Linked DNA regions of Homo sapiens: region 1 is linked to region 2. The links come from fine-mapping of genetic effects on gene expression. Tissue or cell type: left ventricle. Region 2 holds a variant in brackets; the other region holds the start of a gene. All regions are shown on one strand. Distances are between the middles of the regions.

Region 1 (2,761 bases), 27 kb after region 2:
ACTTTTTCAATTCTACATGGCAAAACTAAATTTTCTATGAAAAAATACAATGGTGCTTAGAAGAAATACAGCAAGGTTACTGCACAACCACATTAACAGGCTAAAATAATGCTTCAGTTTAAGCATCAGGTAGGCATGTTTTCAGTTAGCTAATCAAGCCCCTAGCAGCTTGAGGACAAACTACAGAGACTGATAAATTTGTCCCTCTGGGTGATCACTTGACACAGGTCAATTTTTTCTGGGTAGCCTGGTATGAACTCAGAGACCGTAATAGCCTCATAAACTATTTCAGGCTAAAGGCGAAAATGATTCACTATTCCCACAGTGAAAGAGGAAACAAAGACACACGCCATTGACTGGGAACTTCTGCCCCGCTCATAAAGCCTGTGAAGTGAGTTTAACAAGGGCCAGGGGAACCGAGAAAGACATGAAGGCAAAGGAAGCGCTGCTTCCCCCTACCACTTGAACAAAACTGATTCGGATGTACAGAAGTTCCCCCTCCCCACCTATCCTCCCAGAAAGGAGAAATACAAATAAGCCTGGCGATGAGAGGAGGGGGAGGGGTAAGACAAGGAGGAAGAGACATAACAGGGGATGGGCAGGAGGGGAGGGAGTTTTTGCTTCACTGCCCTTGTTCAAAAAGCACAGCCATCAACAGCAGATGTCTGACACCCTTTAAGTCTGAACAATCAGATGATGTATATGAAAGTCATTTGTAAAAGTTTCAAGAGTTACGTAATACAATGAATGTTATACAATGCAGATATTCATTGAATCCCCCCTGCACAAAGGGAAGGGAGCACTTTTCAAGACAGCCTTTTCTTCCTGAATCTGTTCCAAAAGGAGCCTCAGTGACATTCTTTGAGGCCACACAACACGTTTGCTCCAAGGTCAGAACCGGATGCAAGACCCTTCAAAGAAGCCTCCAAAACAAAGGTCTTCAAAGGCATCAACCGATTTTTACAACTTCTTTCCAAGGGTGAACTTAGTCCTGCTGATTGGCGTGTAACGGAAAAGCCAGTGGCTGCTGGGGATGTACCTGCTGATGCCCAGTTCAAAGTCGCCCTCCGCGCTCGTGGGGCGCCAGGCTGTTCCGTTCTTTGCCGCCTCAAGATCCATCTCAGCCTGAGGAGAAACCACAGCCTCAGAACCAAGTACACCCTCTCCGGCGGCCCGGCGCACGAGTCGCGGGGCCCGGGGGCACTGGGTGGAGGTCCGGCCACTCCCGCCCCGCGCCCCACGTCCCGGGTCTCCCTTCGAGGCCAGACGCGCCCGGACCTCTCTCACCTCGAACCTCGCGCGTGTCTGGCAGGGCCTCTGGACGCGCGGGCGCTGCAGCAGAGGGGCCTGGACTTTGCTCGCCGCGGCCTCGCCCCCGCCCCCGCCCCCGCCCCCCACGCGCGTCCGGCCCGGGAAACGCCTACCGTTGCAGCCAGGGCGAGGGCCGCGGCCCGCGAGAGCAGCTCCCGCCGCCCGCCCAGCTCTCTCCCCAGGCTAGGCGCGGGCCAGGGGCGCAGCCTGCCGCTCTTGCCGCCGGGGCGCCCGGCTGGGGCCGCCGCCCACCCTGGCGACCCGCCAGAACCAGCCCGGTCGCAGGATAAGACCGAGATCAGGCTGGAGCCTCGGGTGCCGAGAAAGCCTCGCCTGATGGGCCACCCAAGCCCCTGCAGATGACTGTCACACCCCATGGGCGCTCAGTTTTGTTTTTAAACCCATAGGGGAGACAGTTTCCGGACGCCCAACAATCACAGGGCGGCCCAGGACCGAGAGAGAGCAATAGACTCGCCTCTTGCTTCCGCATCCCCAGTTCTGGTCCAGGTGGCACTGAACCCAATTATCTCCAAGGACGGCGAGAGTCAGCCAGGGCCGGCAGGAACCATCACATTATGCTCCTTGGGGAGGAGGAACGCTGTTGGTGCCCTCTTAGCACTTAAGAGACACAGAGTTTTAGGGCTAGAGGGGTCTTCAGCGATCATCTAATTAAAACCCCGTATGTTTAACATATGAAGAAACGGATGCCCAGAGAGGTGAAGTCCTGCCTGAGGCTGCATCGGTGGAACCAGAGTCTAGGGGAAGCCTCCTGAGTCCCAGTCCAGTGCCCTGGCTCACTGCTCTCATCTAAGACTTCTGTCTGTATTGAATTGTCTCTGCTCCTACCACCTATTTGAGTATGACTTTCTTCTTTCTGATTAATTCCTCCACACTCTTCCCAAAAGGAAGTGTCTAAAACGGGGAGCCATAAGTTTCATGGCTTTGAAACCGGAGACTTTCAAACTCAGAGCTTCACATCTTATTAACTATGTGACTTTGGACACTGTGCTCATTTCTCTAGGCCTGTTTCCTTATATGTAAAATGAGGATAAAAACATCTCCCTTATCAGGTTATTGCGAGGAATAAATGAGTTGAGGATAAGGGAATTAAGTACTAGGTAAAAGCACCTAGTACTATGCCTAAAACATAGTAGGTGAGCAACAAATACAACTTTCCTTCCTTCTGATCAGGTAGCAGGATGACCAGTGGGTCCTTGCACCTGCTATGTCCTGTTAACACAATTGTTAGCCCAAGGCTTGTCTGAGTTCTCAGAGAACCTTAAAGCAGAGCATGGTATAAGTAGAGATGCTGGGTGGACCCTGGTGTGAATCTCACCTTTCCCATGTACCAGCTGTCTGGCCAGGTTATGTAATTCTTGACTCAGTCATTGGATCTATAAAATAAGGGTGTTATTAGGATTAGGGATACTGTGTGTAAAGTGTCCTGCAC
Region 2 (2,737 bases):
CAGATCTTTGGGAATTGAACTAATTCAGGATCAGCCAGGCCTAGAACAGATCCAAGCCTTCTCTTTACTGGCCCGGTTCCATTTCCCTTCATCCATTCCAAGCCAACCAACATTCCTGTGGTTATTCCAGAATTGAGGGCTCACCCTGGGATATGGAAGAGCTTCTCCATCACCTTCACGGCAATATCACAAGTCAGGGTTAAGAGGGAATGAGAGAAACCAAGCCAAACCAGAATTGATTGTAAATGTCACTGGAACTCATAAACAGTTAGATTCTTAACTCTGGTCAATGTCTCTTCTCTGGAGAAAAGAAAATCGTCCCTCTATTGTCCACTGGGTGAGGGATGAAAATTTTACATGTTGTTGTACATAAACATAGGCTTCTCTCTTTGACTTTTTTAAAAATCAGGCTGACCTTCATCTGTCAAGCTAGATACAGGTTATAAGGTAGTCACTACTTATGGAATATGAGTTCTTATTCAATTTTTCCAGACTTTAGTTTCATATATGAAAAATGGATTTAATAATGCCTAATTTGCAAGATAATTGTGAGGTTGGTAGATAATTGTAGAAAGTAGTACAGTAGCTGGTTCATAGTTAGCAAGCCTGATCATTTCTCTTACTATTATATTAGTATCATTGTGTTCAACTTTTATCTCTTCCTGAGTTTTGCTCATTCTATTACTATCATATCTTTGAATCATAATTCAAATGCATTATTACTGGCTGCTGGCATTTGATATAAAGTTTAAAATATCTAGAATGATTCTGTTAAATTACAATTTTTTTTCATCAAGTTAAATCAAATCTACTTTTTCATACTAGACCCAGAGGGTATGTAAAATTTAATTTGGGCTCCCTGAAATTTAAAGAAAAATCCAATGGGTATGCAATGACACTTCGAGGGGAAAATATCACACAAACTAGGATATTTTTCTTTGTGACAAAAAAAAACAAAAAACAAAACACAGCAACACCAGTTTTAGTGTTGAACCAAATAAAACATGAGAATTCATTAGTCTTTTAAAAAACATATTCTGCCATCAGAAGGTTTGTCTTTTTTATTGCGTAAAGCACCCAGGTCTTCAGGGTGCTTTCCTCTGGTTGGGGGCTGCATTCATAGAGCACAGCTGCATCTCTGGGGGTAGCCAGCAGGCCACAGCTAGCGCTGTGATTTCTCCTGTGTGGCTGAGCCTCAAGGCGTGGCAGGAAGACTTGCATCTGCCCAGTGTGACACACAGCTCCAGTGACAGCAGCGGACACACTGTAATTACCTTTGCTTAGGTGGCTCGCTTACCGGGGCTAATGGAGCGGCACAGATTACACTGACATCCTGAGGTCCA[A/G]CTGAGGGTTAGTGTGGTCTGTGTGGACTATTATGTACAGGAAGCAGCAGTGAGAGAGAAAAAAGGAAGAGGTTAGAGGATCAGAAACATGTTGGCTTTGAAGAGGGATTAAGGAATAGAAAAGTAGAAAATTAAATGGGGGGAATAAGGGAAACTTTGTTTTTAATGCTAGAGAATTTCCAGAGAATTTTTATATCCAAGAGTTGTGAGTATCAAGAGTCCCATAGAATAGCCAAAGAAAATACTTTATATGGAATCATACTTCAACTACAGTAGGGGATATTGTTATTTAAATAAAACCCTAAGTAATTATTTTCATTTAAGTAGAGCAGAATAGCCTTTTTCATAGGTGTATTCTTATCCCCAAACTCATTGAGATATACACACTAAAGATGTATACACAGCTTTTCATATGTCAATCATGCCTTGATAATTTTTTCAGAGAAGAGTTTGCAACATGCCTCCAGATACTGGTCAATTTTCCAGGCTTATCCTGGATCATTAAAGTTGAATGCCAGAGGCCTGGGTGGGAAGCCCTGCCTCATTGTTATGGAGGACCCACAAGGCCCTACAAAGAATTCTGGGCTATAACTAGGAAGTCGATGTTTTCTCAGGTTTTTCTCTTCTATATTCCAGTTCATAGTCATTAAGGAGTAAAATAAAATAAAAAATATTTTGATAAGTATTTTTAATATAATTATTTTCCTTTGTAACCCTACTTATTTTGTTTTTTGGGGCTTTTATTTATTTATTTTTTGGTTTTTAAAAAATTTTTACTCTTTTTTTGTGATAGAGGCTCACTCTATCATCCAGGCTGGAGTTCAGCTCACTGCACCCTTGACATTCTGGGCTCAAGGGATTCTCCTGCCTCAGCCTCCTGAGTAGCTGGGACCACAGGTGCACACCACCACACTCAGCTTATTAAAAAAAAAAAAAATTGTAGAGCCAGGGTCTTACTACATTGCCCAGGCTGGTCTTGAGCTCCTGGATTCCAGCTACCCTCCTGCCTTGGCTTCCCAAAGGGCTAGCATATTTTGGTTTATGCATTTAAAAACAAGGGAGTCCATTTGTATTATCACATAGCCAAAAGAGTCCATGGAACATAAATGATTAAGAATCTTGCTTTAGAGTCTGACATTCAACTATAGCCATCAGTAAAGGGTGCTTATAATTTATGCGAGAAGGGTTAATATTAGGAAAGGGAAGGTAAAAAACACATACCACAAAGAAGAAGCAACAAAATGTAAAAACACATTCCTTAAACCAGTGGCTAAAGAACCTTCCTGACCTTTCCAGCTCTTTGTTCTGGCCCCCGAAAGCTATCACAGTCCTGATGGCCCCCAGAGCCTCTTCTGCCACGGCGCCTGCTTTTGCATAAGCAGCTAGTTCTTTGT

Alleles and levels. Positions count from the first base shown, and alleles are read on the strand shown. Sizes are in standard deviations (SD) of each study's normalised expression.
In carriers of allele G in region 2, the expression in left ventricle of the gene that starts at base 1,334 in region 1 tends to be lower than with A alone (small effect, 0.37 SD a copy in GTEx).

The links. PIP is the estimated chance that this variant, and not a neighbour inherited with it, causes the effect.
Region 1: ABCB4 starts here. The variant in region 2 is fine-mapped to the expression of ABCB4 in left ventricle (GTEx, PIP 0.96). The same link has a PIP of 0.9 or more in atrial appendage and testis.

Annotation. Positions count from the first base shown.
Region 1 is chr7:87,474,347-87,477,107 of GRCh38, forward strand. It overlaps ABCB4 (ATP binding cassette subfamily B member 4), which reads right to left and starts at 1,334. Exons shown (of 28, transcript NM_000443.4): 1 at 1,288-1,334; 2 at 1,040-1,125. The coding sequence starts at 1,119. RefSeq lists an enhancer at 521-590 and silencers at 1,061-1,200, 1,211-1,410, 1,461-1,710.
Region 2 is chr7:87,447,337-87,450,073 of GRCh38, forward strand. It overlaps ABCB4 (ATP binding cassette subfamily B member 4), which reads right to left. Exons shown (of 28, transcript NM_000443.4): 8 at 2,632-2,737. Among named protein-coding and RNA genes, the nearest start is that of ABCB4, 27 kb to the right of the region's middle. The variant A/G (reference allele first, on the strand shown) is at 1,344.